Regions from separate parts of the Homo sapiens genome. Here region 1 is linked to region 2. The links come from fine-mapping of genetic effects on gene expression. Tissue or cell type: whole blood. Region 2 holds a variant in brackets; the other region holds the start of a gene. All regions are shown on one strand. Distances are from middle to middle.

Region 1 (8,951 bases), 30 kb before region 2:
ACCAGCCTGGCCAACATGGTGAAACCTCTCTCTACTAAAAATGCAAAAATTAGCCAGACGTGGTGGCTCACGCCTGTAATCCCAACACTTAGGGAGGCCAAGGCGGGCGGATCACAAGGTCAGGAGATTGAGACCATCCTGGCTAACACGGAGAAACCCCATCTCTACTAAAAATACAAAAAATTAGCCGGATGCGGTGGCGGTCGCCTGTAGTCTCAGCTACTCGGGAGGCTGAGGCAGGAGAATGGCGTGAACCTGGGAGGCGGAGCTTGCAGTGAGCCAAGATTGCGCCACTGCACTCCAGCCTGGGCGACAGGGCGAGACTCCGTCTCAAATAATAATAATAATAATAATAATAATAATAATAATAATAATAAAATAAAATAAAATAAAATAAAAATACAAAAATTAGCCAGGTGTGGTGCCAGACGCCTGTAATCCCAGCTACTCAGAAGGCTGAACCAGGAAGTGGAGCTTGCAGTGAGCCGAGATCACGCCACTGCACTCCAGCCTGGGCAACAGAGCGAGACTCCATCTCAAAAAAAAAAAGAAAAGAAAACGTGGTATGTATACACAATGGAGTACTATTCAGCCATAAAAAATAAGATCCTGGCCAGGCACAGTGGCTCACACCTGTAATCCCGATACTTTGAGAGACCGAGGCAGGTGGATCACCTGAGGTCAGGAGTTCGAGACCAGCCTGGCCAACATGGTAAAACCCCGTCTCTACCAATAATACAAAAATTAGCTGGGTGTGGTGGCACACACCTGTAATCCCAGCATTTGGGGAGGCAGAGGAGAGCAGGATAGCTCAAGCCCAGGAGTTTGAGATCAGCCTGGGCAACATGGCAAAACCCTATCTCTACAAAAAAATTAGTCAGGCATGGGGGTGTACACCAGTAGTCCCAGCTACTTGGGAGGCTGAGGCAGGATGATCACTTGAGCCCAGGAAATCAAGGTTGCAATGAGCAAAGATTGTGCCACTGCATTCCAACCTGGGCTACAGGAGACCCTGTCCCAAAAAAGAAAAAAATGAGGTTTCAGTAGCTTCTATGCAAGGTGATAACTGCAGAGAACTGAGACTCAACTGAAAATAGGTGATAAAACATTTTGTTGTGCTATTTATTAATTAAAGGACAAAAGAGCAAGATGAAAGACCACTAATATTTTTTGAGCTCCCACTACATGCCAGGTACACCATTGTCACACCTGGCCCACAGGAGATCTTCAATAAATGTTTGTTAAAGGGATGAATGAAACCCCAACCTTCATTCTGCAAAGGAAATGAAAGCTCAGGAAGATTCAGTGATTAAGATCACATTGTAAGTACTGGCAGAGCTGGGGCTTGAACCCACGTGAGCTGACCGATTCAAATTTACTGCTGCTTAACAACTCACCCTTACATTTAGTGGCTGAAAACCGCAATGTACTATTTGTCACAATCAGGGTAGACAAGATGCAGATGGTGGTTCTGCTGGTCTTGTTTGGGGCCTTACATGGCTGCACTGAGATGGTGACAGGGGCTGGGACACACAGGATGGCTTCACCCACACGTCTATCTTGGCCATTTGTGGAAACTAACTACCATAGGTGGTATTTCATGACCCTGTAAGCACCCACAAATTGCACCTGGTTGGATATTCTGCCTTAGAAAGATCATTCTGGCAGTAGAAAGTGCCTTGAAGGGGAAACCAAAGGTTTTGTAAAAAGTCTACTTTGGTGGTGAAGACCTGAGCCTAGACAGGAGCAGTGCACCCAGCAAACAGTCCAAGCGGAAGGCAAAGATGGTCTACTCCACCACAGGTTGCAGAGATGCCCCCTGGATAACTGGATAACAGTGTCAAGGATAACAGGAGTCCTGTGTTATCCCACTAGAGTCAGACTACAAGTATCAGGGTGAGATATTTTATTGAAGGGATGGAGATGAGAAAACCGAAGGAAACCTTTTAATGTTCATACCACATCCATATCTGATCACAAGCATTGGTTATCTCACCAGCAGAAGCACTTTTCTTCAGCCATCTCTGTAAGTCAGCAAACTACTTCATGACAGCTCCTTTGTAACCAGAGGACCCAAATTTTTCCAGAGTACGACTGGTTACCTTTTGGCTCATTGATTGACCCTCAGGTTTTTTATATTCTGATTTAACACACAAAAGTGTGTTCATATAGTTACATATATATGTATATATGAAAAATATTTGTGTACATATTTCTATATATGTATGTAGAGCTGAGACAAAAGTTTTACAATGAACAGCACCTTACTCTAAGCAACACACTCTTATTTCTATTCGCTTTAATCCTTTTTCTTTTTTTTTTTTTTTTTTTTTTTTTTGACAGAGCCTTGCTCTGTTGCCCAGGCTAGAGTGCAGCCTCTGCCTCCCGGGTTCAAGCGATTCTCCTTCCTCAGCCTCCCGAGTAGCTGGGATTACAGACATGCTCCACCACGTCCAGCTAATTTTTTTATTTTTTGGTAGAGACGGGGTTTCACCATGTTGGCCAGGCTGGTCTCGAACTCCTGATCTTAAGTGATCCGCCTGCCTCGGCCTCCTAAAGTGCTGGATTATAGCCCACCCAATCCTATTTTTTTAAATGCTGTCCATTAATGCATTCTGACTTCTTGCTTGAAAACCCCTGGTTTAGTGGATAAGCACCTGTAACTCCAGGAAGATTCAGGATTAAGGGCAGAAATAATGAAGTAAATTGAAGTATTAGCATTAGTATTTTCCATTACATTTTGGAATCGTCTATTTTGATGTATTCACGACGGTTAAAATAATTTAACATGCTAATGTATGGATTAACTTGGCAATTCCATTTTAAAATATTAAATGGAATAACGATTCTGACTCGTAAGTAGACATGTGTAACAGAATTCAACCACATCTGTAAACCATATTGAAATTATGAGAGTAAGATTTACCAACCACATTTAGGTTTGACATATTAGATTTGTGAGTGAACTATGTACTTGGATTTTGTCAAGTAACTCAATCGCTTAACAAAATAACAATTAAATGTATAAATGCAGTTTATAGCTATACATTATTTTTAAAAATCCCCTTCGAATGACTCTTTAAAACATACCAGGGGATACGCTACTTAAGTATAACTAGGTTTTGGATTTATAACGTTAATATTAATTATTAAAGCAAAACTCATTTCTAAAGAGTCGCCTGAGTGCCCAAAAGACGCCCTCAAGGACAGGGAAGCAGCTGCGATTCACTCAGCGATCACCAGCGCCCAGAATTCAGGGCCGCCCAAGCGGAGGAGCAACACGTGGCCCAGCAAAAGGAGCTGGGTCCCGTGCAGCACAGCAACAAGAAACTGGCCTAGGAAGACGCTGGAGCGTCTTTCTTTCGCACGTTACTGCCTGCTACAGTCATTTAAAAAAAAAAAACCAAAAACAAAAAAAAGAAATAAATTAATAGTACGAAGAAAACTGCGCGAGCTACATTCCCAGCAGGGTCTGCGCCAGAGCGCGCCAGGCACCGCTCCCGTTACGGGTGGGAGGAAAGGATGCACCGCCCACCCGGCGCCGGGGAGGCTCGTCCCCGAGTAGGGGACGGGAACGCCTGGGTCCCGGGGACGTGGGGCGCAGGGTCTGGGGCCCGAGGCCACGGACGAAGCGGGAAGCCGGCTAGGCAGCGGTCTCTGTCTGGGATGGACGCCGCGCCCCACGCGGACCTCCCGCCCCGACTTCACCCAGCTCTGCTGCCCGTAACTCATATGACAAGAACATCAGGAACCGGACTATTACCCCGAAAGGGCCTTCCCAAGTCGTTTCGCCGCCTGCAGTGCCCGACCGGGGGCCGCGCGTCCCCGGCAACCACGCCCGCCCGCGCAGCTGCAGAGGCCGGAAAAGGCCCGCTCGCCCGCGCTCGGCACCACCCAGCCCGCGCTCCGGGCGATACCACCCTGGGCGGCCCCTCCAAAGGCCGGAGATGGTGTCGTCCCCGGCCTCCGATTGGTCGGGGGGGCGGGGGCGTGGCCTCTGGAGCCTGGTTCCGCGCGCCGGAGCGCGCTAGCCGCATTGCGAGCCGAACCCGGGAGCTGGCGCCATGGTGAGGAGTGGTTGCGGGGCGCGGGCGACGCGACGGTGGGGGTTTCGGCCTGCGTTCGGGCCGCAGACAGGGCCTGGGCCTGGGCCTGGGCCTGCGCCTGCGCCTGCGCCTGCCCTGGGAACGGGTTCCGGCAGACGCTGAGGTTGCGTTGACGCTCGCGCCCCGGCTCCCGTTCCAGGTGCTGTTGCACGTGCTGTTTGAGCACGCGGTCGGCTACGCGCTGCTGGCGCTGAAGGAAGTGGAGGAGATCAGTCTGCTGCAGCCGCAGGTGGGTGAGATCCGTGGGCTCCTTTGGCGGCCCCGCAGACCCTCATCGCGCGGGTCCCAGCATGCACAGCGCGCTCCCACGTGGCCGGCCGAGCGGTTCGGGGCGGGGGGACGGGCCTGGAAAGCTCTAGATCCGGGGGTCTTTACCTTGACCCATGGGTAGAATCGCTCTAGCAATTAGAAATAAGCCTCCCGGACGCCGCCCCCGAACGATTAAAGCAGAAGCTGGGATGTGGGGCCCAGGTATCAGCATATTTTAAGAGCTTCCAAGGCTGAGAACCGCTGCTTGACTGCGCCGCAGAGGCAGGAGGGAGGGAAGGAAACCACTTAGCCTCTTTCTCCCCCCAGGTGGAGGAGTCTGTGCTCAACCTGGGCAAATTCCACAGCATCGTTCGTCTGGTGGCCTTTTGTCCCTTTGCCTCATCCCAGGTTGCCTTGGAAAATGCCAACGCCGTGTCTGAAGGTAAGTCGGCCACCGCCAAGTGTCACAGAGAGATGTGGTTCCTTTCGGTATCCTCTCGGGCAGCTTGTGATAGTATTTGCCGTCCTTGGCTGGCTCTGAGTCTGATAGGCGTGAGGCAGTATTTGAGCCATACAATGTGTAATTTGAAATAATTGTCTTCACAGAGCTCAAGGTCTGGGAACTGTGCTAGACCAAACTGTTTAAGCAGACGATGTGGAATGTGTGTTAACGTTTCCTTGTGGGCACTGTAGTGACAAACTATTTTTTATTTTTATTTTTTTTGAGATGGAGTCTGTCCCCCAGGCTGGAGTGCAGTGGCAAGATCTGGGCTCACTGCAACCTCTGCCTCCCTGGTTCAGGCGATTCTCCTGCCTCAGCCTCCCGAGTAACTGGGATTACAGGCCTGTGCCAGCCACCACACCCGGCTAATTTTGTATTTTTGGTAGAGACGGGGTTTCACCATGTTGGCCAGGCTAGTCTCCATCTCCTGACCTCGTGATCCGCCCGCCTCGACCTCCCAAGGTGCTGAGGTTGCAGGCGCGAGCGACGGTGCCCGGCCGACAAAGGGGGGTTTCTTAAAGGGGGTCGGCTTAACACCTACTTGTGCCTGAGGTTTTGCCTAAACACAATCAAGTGTCTGGTTCTCTGCTTTCTGTTCGATTGGAAAGGGCAGTTGGGTAAACACAGGCTGAGAAAAAAAGGTTTGGTTCCAGAAGGCAAATTCTACGAAATACTCGAGGGTGTGTTACAAGCTATTATTTATTGCCCACTTGTGCTATCAGACCTGAATGCAGTTGTTCCCATGGCTGGGCCAGGCTTTGCAGTGATGACTTGCGAATCAAATCTGTCAATCCCCTGAGTGCAATCACTGATGTCTCCATGTCTCTGAGCAATGCCTGATGGGGAGGGATCTAGGTATGCCATCCCAGCGTGCTCGGTGGGACCAGGGTAGTCAGCTGAGGGATGTTAGAGTTGATCGTCCTTCAGCCTGTTAGTGGGAACTGTGTTCTTTCCCCTGAGGGGTTGTTCATGAGGACCTCCGCCTGCTCTTGGAGACCCACCTGCCGTCCAAAAAGAAGAAAGTACTCTTGGGAGTTGGGGATCCCAAGATTGGTGCCGCAATACAGGAGGAGTTAGGGTACAACTGCCAGACTGGAGGAGTCATAGCTGAGATCCTGCGAGGTGAGACCATCATCTGTTATATTCCTGTTATCCTGGACATTTTGGGGGAGGAGGTTCTGGAAACTTGGTTGCTTGTTGTGATTTCTGGGAAGGCCTTCAGGCTGGGCTGGTGCCCGTGGGTGCGGGAGCTAGCTCAGAGCCCCTTGTTGCTCACCGTCTTGCCCTCTTCTTAGGAGTTCGTCTGCACTTCCACAATCTGGTGAAGGGTCTGACCGATCTGTCAGCTTGTAAAGCACAGCTGGGGCTGGGACACAGCTATTCCCGTGCCAAAGTTAAGTTTAATGTGAACCGGGTGGACAATATGATCATCCAGTCCATTAGCCTCCTGGACCAGCTGGATAAGGACATCAATACCTTCTCTATGCGTGTCAGGTAAAGTGCAGGGGCCACCCATAATACTGGAGCCTTTGGTCTGTAGTTCAGTTAATTTTGAGTCTTGATGAGGACTGACCATCCTGTGGGTAGAACCATGTGGGCTGGGGCTGGGTGTAGGCCTCCTGGTGCTTACCACAGGCTGTGTTCTTACACTGACTGTATAGAAAGAGGAGGTAGAGTAAACCTACCCCATATACACCTCAGCTCAGGCCCTGTGCCTGGTCTGTATTGTGAATGGGGGAACATAGAATTGAGGAAGATTTGGATCTTTGTCCCATTTCCTCCAGGCAGAGTAGGTGTGGAGAAGGCAAGGCTGTAGCTCTATGGTTTTTGATGAAGCAGCTGGGCCAGGGAGTGACTGTGGCTCTTTGCAGGGAGTGGTACGGGTATCACTTTCCGGAGCTGGTGAAGATCATCAACGACAATGCCACATACTGCCGTCTTGCCCAGTTTATTGGAAACCGAAGGGAACTGAATGAGGACAAGCTGGAGAAGCTGGAGGAGCTGACAATGGATGGGGCCAAGGCTAAGGCTATTCTGGATGCCTCACGGTCCTCCATGGGTCAGTGCAGAGCCTGGCAACCTGCATAAGGTATGGGGCTCTAAATAGCTGGCCTCTTGCATTCACACTTGGTTTTTCCTAGGCATGGACATATCTGCCATTGACTTGATAAACATCGAGAGCTTCTCCAGTCGTGTGGTGTCTTTATCTGAATACCGCCAGAGCCTACACACTTACCTGCGCTCCAAGATGAGCCAAGTAGCCCCCAGCCTGTCAGCCCTAATTGGGGAAGCGGTGCGTCACAGGGGACTCAAAAATGGGAGAATAAGGACTGTTGCCATGTGCACCTGCACTGCTGTATTTCGTGACCCACCATGTCTTCCCTAGTTGTGCTTGATGGGGAGGTGGGGAGCAGGGCTGTCGTGCAACTGGGCAGGTCAGCAGTTCATTTCTCTGACTGCTTCCTTGACTCTCTCTCCAGGTAGGTGCACGTCTCATCGCACATGCTGGCAGCCTCACCAACCTGGCCAAGTATCCAGCATCCACAGTGCAGATCCTTGGGGCTGAAAAGGCCCTGTTCAGGTACCAGTGAGGGCACCTGCCCACAATCAGGTGCCACTTCTGGTGCCCACTGCTTGTTGGGGGATCACGGTGATGGCTGACCAGGGCTCCCTGACCTATACAGGCCTCTGCTATGGGGGTGATGGCCAGTCCTGGTGTCTGAGTGATTCCCAGGGCCCAGCAAAGGGACCAAGTTTCCAGGTCAGCGACATTGGATGCCTTCCCTCTGCCTCTGGGAGCTATGGGTTGGCATGCATTGGGGTAGAGATCCAATCTGGCCTGAGGCTCACTCAGGACTTCGGGGTGAGAGGAGGGGAGGAGCTGAGCTGCCTTGGCTAATGGGGTTGAAATTTCTGATCTTAAACTCTCCACTGAATATTCTCTCAGAGCCCTGAAGACAAGGGGTAACACTCCAAAATATGGACTCATTTTCCACTCCACCTTCATTGGCCGAGCAGCTGCCAAGAACAAAGGCCGCATCTCCCGATACCTGGCAAACAAATGCAGTATTGCCTCACGAATCGATTGCTTCTCTGGTATGGGTGGGGGGGCGTTGGCAGGTGTGAGAAGGGGCTGGGTGGCTGGGTGGGGAGGCTTGCAACCATAGCTTCCACAATGATGGCAATATTTTTCGTCAACAGCAGTTCACCTAGTGAGTGTTGAGACTCTGGGTCTGAGTGAAGCTGAGGGTAGAGGGAACACAGGGTTGGGGTAGTTTCTCTCTTTGGGCTGACAGGCTTTGTCACCCACACACATCCAGAGGTGCCCACGAGTGTATTCGGGGAGAAGCTTCGAGAACAAGTTGAAGAGCGACTGTCCTTCTATGAGACTGGAGAGATACCACGAAAGAATCTGGATGTCATGAAGGAAGCAATGGTTCAGGTCAGTTGGGCTTTGCTGGGTGTGGAGTGGCATAGCTAGCTGTTGGAGGTGATGAACTGTCTGAGCCTGACCTTGTAGAATGGAGGCAAAAAAACTGATTTAATGAGCCTGATCCAATAAAGCCAGAAAGGAGTCCTCAGAGCACCAGAAGTCTTCAGGCCCTTTTAGCACTTTTCTTTGACCAGGCAGAGGAAGCGGCTGCTGAGATTACTAGGAAGCTGGAGAAACAGGAGAAGAAACGCTTAAAGAAGGAAAAGAAACGGCTGGCTGCACTTGCCCTCGCGTCTTCAGAAAACAGCAGTAGTACTCCAGAGGAGTGTGAGGTCAGTAGGCAGCACGGCCCTGGCAGAGATCCTAGGTTGTAGGATTTTCAACAGCAGAACAAAGGATATGCTGCATCAAGCTGTGGTCTTGAGTCCAGGCTTTTGGACTGAAACAAGGACCTGAAACATCTAAAACTACCTCTTGATTCTATAGGAAGGAGATAGGTGCTGAACTTGCTCAAGAGCCCAGAGAGCTGGTTGTAGCTCACACCCGTTCCCTGGGCATGTGTGTTCTGTCCTCGGCTGCCTCCCAGGAGTCCTCAACCTGGGGTAGTGTAAATTCCTGCTCTGCTTATTATCAGACGTGTGTCCGGAGGTGGTCGTGTTTC
Region 2 (10,644 bases):
TCAGCGAGGCAGTATGATCACTGAATGCAGCTATCTCCAAAGATCATCTCCTTTCAGCCACTTCCTGGGTACTGATCAGGATGAAAACAGGTGGAGGGTTATATAGATCTATTCTGAAAAGTTGGGAGCATGGTGCTTCTTTTTTCTTTCCTCTCCCACCCCTAACCCAACAGCAACCCCACACCAGCCTGCTTGGTGCACCCTCCAGGTGTCAGCCCGGCAAAAGGGGACTTAGGGGATTCAAACTTATCTCTAATTCTGGTTTAGCCACTTGGATTCTCTTGACAGATTAACCTGATCCCAGATCAGTGTACTCATTGAATACAATTGCTTGCCAAATTGAGTACACTGGTTGAGTACATTCCTTGCCAAGTTCTCTCACACTGGCTCATATAGGCCAAGGTGCGAGATACAATGGATGTCTGTAAATTTTGTAAAAATGTCCTTGTCTCACTCACGCCTCGCTCTAGCAGACAAAAGGTCTGGGTATGAGTAGGGAAAGATCGGAGAAATGATGAAGTTATGGCTACTGGAATGAGATATGCTGCTTTCATAGCCAGGAAGCCTGCGAGAAGACACCTTAGATGCCAGCAGGTGCAAACAGTGGAGAATGATCAATGTGCTCTTTGTCCCCTAGATCCAGCATTGAAACCTAGAAAAACCATCATCTCGTTCATCTGAGTTGAGCAGCAGCTGCAGCTGACAGTCTTACCCTTTCTGGATTTATCATGCTGCCTGCATGCTATGAAAACAGGGGAATTCATAAGGAGGTGGCCAGTCCTGGCTATTCAGTTGTGGCCTTTGCCAGCCATCAATGGCAGCTCCCAAATATGGAACCTCCCCTTACCCCATACATGCACAAACACACCATCCAGCACAACCTTGTTTGTCTGATTGGTACAAACACAGGCACTTTTCCTGTCACCCACGTGGCTTTGGTTCATGTATGGTGTCTGAGGATGCAAGCGTTAGGTGACACCATCCATGTGGCTAAACCAAACCAGTGTAATGATAATCCAAATCAGAATCAACAACAAATTCTGAATTCAAGTAACACGTAACCTGTTGGGTGTATGTTTGTATGTGGGCCATGTGATGTCTCTCCATTAGGGATGAGGGTTGCTTTTGGCCCATCTATCACTTCATATAATTACTGGCGATGACATTGAGGACCAGTAGATTAGTCTAGAACTCACTTATGCAGGTTGTAATGGATAATGACCTGGCCTTAGACTGTATCCTGGCCTACTAAGGCCTACTGATCCCCTTGAGACTTATTCACAGGTGACTGAGTCTGAGACGCCGGGTGGCATTGTTGAAGCCAATACTGTTGGTTGGCCTCATCTTGCTTGAGGTTCTATTGGTAGTAAATTCTGTATGAGACAAATTGAGCAAATTTGGTCCCAGTCTAGGGTGATCAGATTGATTGGAGTGGCAGATGGAGTGGTATACTCATGGGAATATTCCACTTTGGCCAAGAATGTGTAAGGTCAATTATTGGGAGAGGAAAGCTGTCAGAGGCCCTGAACGTCCCAGCACATTTTTACTGAGTATGCCAAGACTACAAGGCCCTGACCCCTCTTTCCTGGGCTGTTTCTCAGGGTCGTGCATTGCAGTAAGCCACCTTGAGGAATGAGGTTAATATCTCTCTCCAGGACAAAGAGCAGACTTGCTTACTGCTGTCTATGAAAGAGGGGGTTCCCCAGGCTCAATGTTCCTCACGTGGGGCACAAACCCAGTGCATGCACAGAATCCATAAGGCTCCTTCCCATTTTCCTTGTGGAACTTAGGGAACAAGGGGAGCTGATACAAACAGGGTGCTTTTGCTACTTGCTATGCTGTGTTAATATGCTTTGCTTTGTCTCTAATCTAGGAATCTCCTGTCTTCTGCCAGCATTCATGAAACAGTAACAAAGTAACTTATCTTGAAAGGAGGGCAAAATACAATCCAAGATATTTATATGTAGCAAAGTGAAAGAGAATAAACAGTAACTGCTAGAGAATGCCTTAGGCAAAAAGGCATCCTTGGATGTTGTCTTAGTTGGCTCAGGTTACCATCACAAAACGCCATAGACTGGGTGGCTTCAACAACAGAAATTTATTTTCTCAGAGTTCTGGAGGCTGGGAAGTCGCAGATCAAGGTACCAGTTGATTTGGGTCCTGGTGAGGGCTGTCTTCCTGGCTTGCACATGGTCACTTTCTCATTGTGTCCTCACATAGTGGAGATTGAGAGTTTTAGTGTCCCTTCCTCTTCACATAAGGGCACTAGACCTATCGGATAGGGATCCACCCTTATGACCTTTATCATTTCAGCCTTTATCACCTCCTCATAGCCTTTTTTTTTTTTTTTTTTTTTTTTTTTTTTTTTTTTGAGACAGTCTCGCTCTGTCACCAGGCTGGAGTGCAGTGGCGTGATCTCGGCTCACTGCAACCTCCGCCTCCCAGGTTCAAGTGATTCTCCTGCCTCAGCCTCCTAAGTAGCTGGGACTACAGGTGCCCGCCACCACGCCCGGCTAATTTTTTGTATTTATAGTAGAGACAGGGTTTCACTGTGTTAGCCAGGATGGTCTCAATCTCCTGGCCTCATGATCTGCCCGCCTCAGCCTCCCAAAGTGTTGGGATTATAGGTGTAAGCCACCACGCCCGGCCTCCTCATAGCCTTTATCTCCAAATACAGTTAATTAGGGGGTTAGGATTTCAACATATGCATTTAAGGGAGACAAACATTCATTCCATAACAGGTGTCATTCAGGTTTCAGTTAAGGCTGGTGGTGAGAGAAAGTTTTAAAAGAAATGTTGAAAATATGAGGAAGTTGGTTAATTTTGCAGAGGGGATTCTTTTTTTTTTTTTTTTTTGACCTCAACCTCCCGAGTAGCTGGGACTGCAGGCATGTATCACCAGGCCTGGCTAATTTGTTGGAGCAACAGAGTTTCACCATTTGGCCAGGCTGGTCTAAAACTCCTGAGCTCAAGCGATTTGCCTGCCTTGGCCTCCAGAAGTGCTTGCATCTGTAAGCCACTGCCTTACAGATGGGATTCTGAAGGGCATGGCAGATGTTGGAGGTGAAGTGGTAGAGGATAGGTCAGGGCCAAGGAGAAATAGAGCATTATGGGACTGAGTATGTGGCCAGTGGGATCCACAGTTTCAGAGTTGAGAGACAAAAGCAGGCATGAGAAGCATAAAAAAGTTTTAATAAGTTAGAACTGGCTGGGCGCGGTGGCTCACGCCTGTAATCCCAGCACTTTGGGAGGCCGAGGCGGGTGGATCACGAGGTCAGGAGATCGAGACCATCCTGGCTAACATGGTGAAACCCCGTCCCTCCTAAAAATACAAAAATTAGCCAGACATTGTGGCGGGCGCCTGTAGTCCCACTTACTCAGGAGGCTGAGAGAGGAGACTGCCGTGAACCTGGGAGGCGGAGCTTGCAGTGAGCTGAGTTCGCGCCACTGCACTCCAGCCTGGGCGACAGAGCGAGACTCCATCTCAACAACAACAACAACAAAAAAAGTTAAAACTATTGAAAGTTTGTGCTAGGAATACTACCTAGGAATGAAAACAAATGAATTACACTCTTATACACAACAACGTGGATAAATCTCACAGGTAATGATGAGTGAAAGCCAGATATTTAAAAACTACATAATGCATGATGTCATTTACATGAACTTCAAGAATGAGAAAAACTAGTTTATGGTGCAAGGAATCAGGAGGGGGTTACCTCTTGAGCGGCAAGTGTTCACTGGGAGTAGGCACCAGAGAGGATTTGGGGATGTTGAAAATGCCCTGTATCTTAATCTGAATGGTTGGTTATATGGGTGTATATGTGTGTAAAAATTTACCAACATGCGCATGTAATATCTGGGTACTTTGCTGTCAATTATGTCATAATTTTAAAAAGGCAAATAATTTTTTAATTAAAAACAAAGATGGATATTGGGCCAAAGTGATCATCCACATACATCTTGCCCACATAAAATGATCTTACCAGCAAAAAGAACAGCTGGGCTGGCTGCAATGGCTCATGCCTATAATCTCAGCACTTTGGGAGGCCAGCGCAGGGGGATTATTTGAGCCCACGAGCTTGAAACCAACTTGGGCAACTTGGCAAGACCCTGTCACTACAAAAAAAACTGTTTTGTTTTTTTTTCGAGATGGAGTTTTGCTCTTGTTGCCTAGGCTGGAGCAGAATTATGCGATCTTGGTTCACTGCAACCTCCGCCTCCCAGGTTCAAGTGATTCTCCTGCCTCGGCCTCCCAAGTAGCTGGGATTACAGGTGCCCACCACCACCCCAGGTAATTTTTTTGTATTTTTAAAGACAGGGTTTCACCATGTTGGCCAGGCTGGTCTTGAACTCCTCACCTCAGAGGATCCACCTGCTTCGGCTTCCCAAAGTGCTGGGATTACAGGCATGAGCCACCGCTCCTGGCCTATAAAAATTTTTTTAGAAAATCAGCCAGGTGTGATGGTACACCCCTGTAGTCCAAGCTACTCAGGAGGCTGAGGCAGGAGGATCGCTTGAGCCCAGAGGTCCAGGCTGCAGTGAGCCAAAATCGAGCCACTGCACTCCAGTCTGGGCAAACAGAGTGAGACTCTGCATTTGAAAAAAAAAAAAGGAAGAAAGAAGGGAGAAGAAGGGAGAAGGAGAAGGAGAAGAAGAAGAAAGAAGAAGAGAGGGGAAGAAGGGGACGAAGGGGAAGAAGCGGATGAAGGGGAAGAAGGGGAAGAAGGAGAAGAAGGGGAAGAAGAAGGGGAAGAAAAGAAGAAGAAGAAGAGGAAGAGGAAGAAGAAGAAGAGGAAGAAGAAGAGGAAGAAGAAGAGGAAGAAGAAGAGGAAGAAGAGGAAGAAGAAGAGGAAGAAGAGGAAGAAGAAGAAGAAGAAGAAGAAGAAGAAGAAGAAGAAGAAGAAGAAGAAGAAGAAGAAGAGGAAGAGGAAGAAGACAGAATTTCCCATATACAGCTTGGCACAGAATATGGGAGTCCGTCATCCAACATTTTGTTCAAATAAAGTAAGACCCTAGTCCTTGAGACCCACACAGGAGTGTGCTGGAATCGGATTGCTCAGGCTCTGAAGAGGCTATGGTGTGTCTCTCCTAACATGTTCAGTGATATCACATTAGTAGTTTGAAATCAGCCATGGTAGGAATGTGTAGTCACCACAAATTCAGCAAATGCTACAAAGCAAGTTTATTTTTTAAGAGGAGGCTGTTACCAGTATCACGCTGTTTTGGTTACTGTAGCCTTGTAGTATAGTTTGAAGTCAGGTAGCGTGATGCCTCCAGCTTTGTTCTTTTGGCTTAAGATTGACTTGGCAATGCAGGCTCTTTTTTGGTTCCATATGAACTTTAAAGTAGTTTTTTCCAATTCTGTGAAGAAAGTCATTGGTAGCTTGATGGGGATGGCATTGAATCTATAAATTACCTTGGGCAGTATGGCCATTTTCA[C/A]GATATTGATTCTTCCTATCCATGAGCATGGAATGTTCTTCCATTTGTTTGTATCCTCTTTTATTTCGTTGAGCAGTGGTTTGTAGTTCTCCTTGAAGAGGTCATTCACATCTCTTGTAAGTTGGATTCCTAGGTATTTTATTCTCTTTGAAGCAGTAGTGAATGGGAGTTCACTCATGATTTGGCTCTGTTTGTCTCTTATTGGTGCATAAGAATGCTTGTGATTTTTGCACATTGATTTTGTATCCTGAGACTTTGCTGAAGTTGCTTATCAGCTTAAGGAGATTTTGGGCTGAGACGATGGGGTTTTCTAGATATACAATCATGTCATCTGCAAACAGGGACAATTTGACTTCCTCTTTTCCTAATTGAATACCGTTTATTTCCTTCTCCTGCCTGATTGCCCTGGCCAGAACTTCCAATACTATGTTGAATAGGAGTGGTGAGAGAGGGCATCCCTGTCTTGTGCCAGTTTTCAGAGGGAATGCTTCCAGTTTTTGTCCATTCAGTATGATATTGGCTGTGGGTTTGTCATAAATAGCTCATTATTTTGAGATACGTCCCATCAATACCTAATTTATTGAGAGTTTTTAGCATGAAGAGTTGTTGAATTTTGTCAAAAGCCTTTTCTGCATCTATTCAGATAATCATGTGGTTTTGTCGTTGGTTCTGTTTATATGCTGGATTATGTTTATTGATTTGGTACCAAAACAGAGATATAGACCAATGGAACAGAACAGAGCCCTCAGAAATAATGCCACACATCTACAACTATCTGATCTTTGACAAACCTGACAAAAACAAGAAATGGGGAAAGGATTCCCTATTTAATAAATGGTGCTAGGAAAACTGGCTAGCCATAGGTAGAAAGCTGAAACTGGACCCCTTCCTTATACCTTATACAAAAATTAATTTAAGATGGATTAAAGACTTAAATGTTAGACCTAAAACCATAAAAACCCTAGAAGAAAACCTAGGCAATACCATTCAGGACATAGGCATGGGCAAGGACTTCATGTCTAAAACATCAAAAGCAATGGCAACAAAAGCCAAAATTGACAACTGGGATCTAATTAAACTAAAGAGCTTCTGCACAGCAAAAGAAACTACCATCAGAGTGAACAGGCAACCTACAGAATGGGAGAAGATTTTTGCAATCTACTCATCTGACAAAGGGCTAATATCCAGAATCTACAAAGAACTCCAACAAATTTACAAGAAAAAAACAAACAACCCCATCAAAAAGTGGGCAAAGGATATGAACAGACACTTCTCAAAAGAAGACATTTATGCAGCCAACAGACACATGAAAAAATGCCCATCATCACTGGTCATTAGAGAAATGCAAATCAAAACCACAATGAGATACTATCTCACACCAGTTAGAATGGCAATCATTAAAAAGTCAGGAAACAACAGATGCTGGAGAGGATGTGGAGAAATAGGAACACTTTTACACTGTTGGTGGGACTGTCAACTAGTTCGACCATTGTGGAAGTCAGTGTGGCAATTCCTCAGGGATCTAGAACTAGAAATACCATTTGACCCAGCAATTCTATTACTGGGTATATACCCAAAGGAATATAAATCATGCTGCTATAAAGACATATGCATGGGTATGTTTATTGCGGCACTATTCACAACAGCAAAGACTTGGAACCAACCCAAATGTCCAACAATGACAGACTGGATTAAGAAAATGTGGCATATATACACTATGGAATACTATGCAGCCATAAAAAAATGATGAGTTCATGTCCTTTGTAGGGACATGGATGAAGCTGGAAACCATCATTCTCAGCAAACTATCGCAAGGACAAAAAACCAAACACCACATGTTCTCACTCATAGGTGGAAATTGAACAATGAGAACACATGGACACAGGAAGGGGAACATCACACCCCGGGGCCTGTTGTGGGGTGGGGGGAGGGATAGCATTAGGAGATATACCTAATGTAAATGACAAGTTCATGGGTGCAGCACACCAACATGGCACATGTATACATATGTAACAAACCTGCACGTTGTGCACATGTACCCTAGAACTTAAAGTATAATAAAAAAAAAAAAAAGAGGAAGCTGTTAACCACTTACGGTTGCATCACTTGGCCACCAGCACCTCAGGCTTATCCATGAAGTAACTACAGCTGAGAATAAGTCAGTAACTTGCCTACTGAGTTCAGGTCTCCAGACCCCAAGTCCGGTGTTCTTTCCACCACATGGCACATTCCAAGGACCTCGCTCCCCCAGGCCAAGCAGCCATTGAAGGTTAAGGAAAGAGAGAGCTTAAGACCTCTCTCCCCAACACCAGGAATAGGCCTGGGTGACACAGCAGAGTAGGGATAGGTGACAAGGGATAGGTGTGGGGGGCTCTTTTTATTTTTATTTTTTAAGACAGAGTCTCGCTCTGTCACCCAGGCTATAGTGCAGTGGCGCAATATGGGCTCACTGCAACTTTCACTTCCCAGGTTCAAGCAATTCTCCTGCCTCAGCCTCCTGAGTAGCTGGAACTACAGGTGCGTGCCACCACACCCAGCTAATTTTTTGTATTTTTAGTAGAAACAGGGTTTCACCATGTTGGCCAGGCTGACCTCAGGTGATCCACCTGCCTTGGCCTCTCAAAGTGGTGGGATTACAGGCATGAGCTACCGCGCCCGGCTGGGAGCTCATCTCTTTGGGGCACCCTGTGGGACCCCACATAGGCAATCCATCATGAGTTTCTGACCTCTACCTCCCAGACAAGTATTCATCCACAAATATTTATCCTTCAAGGACTATTCACAGCACTATGGATACAGAAAAGAAGAAAAGAATCAAACATCTTCATCTGTAAGAGCTACAGGCCAGTAAATGATAGCACTTTTCTATTAAGAAACGCATCCCTCCCCACTGAACTTGTTTTAGTTTAGGTCTTCATTATCTCTTACCTGAACTGTTCCTACCCAACTCCAGGTCCCACCAGAAGATCTAGATTTTGGGAGACCTGAAGCTTATACAATTGGAGGAGTAACTCCTTAAGAAGAATACAAAATTATGAATACACAATTATATGTAACCATGTGAACCTGTCACGAGGAATATTCGAGGGTCCTTGGAAGGGGCCGGTGTAGATGAAAGCCTGAAGATTAAGCCTCATGGAGAATCAGCCTCTGCCAAGTCCTCTCCCCACTTCACCCGGGACAAGGGGAAAAATAGCTCCCTCCTGCCTACCCTATATTCCCCTCACCCCCTACCCCTACCGCACCCTGCTCTACCTCAAGGATAATAGTTTCCTTTCTTCTAGACCCCCACTCCCCCACCCTCCTCCTACCTCCCCAGCAATTTGGGTTTTTGTTTTTGTTTTTTGAGACAGTCTCATTCTGTTGCGCAGGCTGGAGTGCAGTGGCACGATTGGCTCACTGTAACAGCCTCTTCCTCCTGGGTTCAAGCACTTCTCATGCTTTTTTTTTTTTTAAATATTATGCTCTTGCTTTTTTGCTTTTAATGTAATAGTTTAAGTATAAATATTTGTCCCTAGTATCTATTTGGAAAATGAAATAAGCTGCTTAATGTCTCCAACAAAGACAGTTATATATCTTTCCCACTTCCACAGGAAAACCCAAGGTGCTGAACGCCCAGAATAGCAACCTTACACAGGTATAGTGTTCAAAAGTTTGTAAAATTGTTTTCCTCGTGTTTAATTTTATTTCACCTTCACAACTGTGTGCTATCATTCTCATTTGATGGGAAACTGAGGCTCAGTATAAGTTTACAAATCCAGTGAGTGGCAGAGATGGGATTCTGACTTAAGTTCAGCATTTTAGGAAACTCAAGGCAGGCGCGGTGGCTCATGCCTGTAATCCCAGCACTTTGGGAGGCCAGGGTGGGTGGATCGCCTGAGGTCAGAAGGTGGGGACCAGCCTGGCCAACATGGCGAAACCCCGTCTCTACTAAAAATACAAAAATTAGCCAGGCGTGGTGGCCCACTCCTATAATCCCAGCTACTCGGGAGGCTGAGGAAGGAGAATCACTTGAACCCGGGAGGTGGAGGTTGCAGTGACCCTAGCTCGTGCCACTGCACTCCAGCCTGCGCGACGGGAGCGAGACTCCATCTCAAAAAAAAAAAAAAAAAAGAGACTCAAACGTGATCTAGAATAAACGCACCTACTGCCAACCGGATGTTGGGTCAAGTGAGAATGAAGACAATGTAGCCATAGTACTGAAGTTCAATTTACGCCAGTGGCGAGACATTGATTTAAACCAAGTAACTTGAACTCAGGTTTGCTCCCCATGTACTTGGAATTTAACTGCGCTGAGCTTTTACTTATTTATTTCAAGTACTCTATAGTAGTTCTGAGCCCCTGCCTCCTGTGTTGCTGGGACTAGAGGCACATGCCACTGCACCCGGATAATTTTTGTTTTCTTTGTATTGTTTTTGTTTCATTTTGTTTGTTTTTTTCAGTAGAAGCGGGTTTTTGCCATGTTGGCTGGGCTGGTCTCGATCTCCTGGCCTCAAATGATCCACCCTCCTTGGCCTCCCAAAGTGCTGGGATTACAGGCGTGAGCCACCGCGCCTGGCCCTCCCCAACAATTTGAAAATGAATTTGATCTTGCCCCACCGGTAAATATATATATATATGTGTGTGTGTGTGTGTGTATATAATATTTCAAAATTGTTGCCATTGCCTATGAGTAGCTAAGGGGCAGCCGTCAGGGATAGTGTTGGGTGCTGCTGCAGTTTTAGGTTTGAGACTGCAGGGAACAGCCGTGCTCTGCAAAATAGCAGGGAGTGGGCATAGCTTGCTGCACTGGGAAAACGGTCCCCTTCCTCTTCCTCAATGGGCATTGAGACCGGGTGTCTTTGAAGTGGTTTGTGATTGGCAGGTGTGTGAACAACCAGGACCAATGATCCCAGAGCCTGGGGATAGGAGCTCGACTCTCCTGCCAAAGGGTCCACCACGATAGCTCCTATTGTTTTATTATTCAAGATTGAATAACTGGGCCTAGATGTGGGATGGAATGGATCCTAAGGCAAGACTAATACTTGTGGTGTGGGGTTTTCTTGAAGCAATTGAAGAGGCCTCAGGAATCAACAGCGAGGAAGGCCCAGAGCTGGCGCATACCTACCAGACCACCTTCTTGGATGGCCCTTGTCATTCTGGATTTCTTCATGGAACTATGAGAATTGCCATAATTAATGCGCGCTTTAGTTTTTGTATTCC

The links. PIP is the estimated chance that this variant, and not a neighbour inherited with it, causes the effect.
Region 1: it holds the start of NOP56, and the variant in region 2 is fine-mapped to the expression of NOP56 in whole blood (INTERVAL, PIP above 0.99).

What each region holds. Positions count from the first base shown.
Region 1 is chr20:2,648,597-2,657,547 of GRCh38, forward strand. NOP56 (NOP56 ribonucleoprotein) reads left to right here and starts at 4,036. Exons shown (of 12, transcript NM_006392.4): 1 at 4,036-4,067; 2 at 4,246-4,335; 3 at 4,683-4,797; 4 at 5,818-5,979; 5 at 6,153-6,351; 6 at 6,729-6,916; 7 at 6,999-7,150; 8 at 7,338-7,438; 9 at 7,805-7,953; 10 at 8,178-8,299; 11 at 8,485-8,622. The coding sequence starts at 4,065. It overlaps MIR1292 (microRNA 1292), which reads left to right and starts at 4,181; the gene lies at 4,181-4,246. SNORD110 (small nucleolar RNA, C/D box 110) reads left to right here and starts at 5,616; the gene lies at 5,616-5,690. It overlaps SNORA51 (small nucleolar RNA, H/ACA box 51), which reads left to right and starts at 6,471; the gene lies at 6,471-6,602. It also overlaps SNORD86, LOC105372505, SNORD56 and SNORD57. RefSeq lists a silencer at 3,520-4,159 and enhancers at 4,660-4,749, 6,864-7,381.
Region 2 is chr20:2,677,444-2,688,087 of GRCh38, forward strand. All of the region lies in intron 2 of LOC105372507 (a long non-coding RNA gene), which reads right to left. Among named protein-coding and RNA genes, the nearest start is that of EBF4, 10 kb to the right of the region's middle. The variant C/A (reference allele first, on the strand shown) is at 5,443.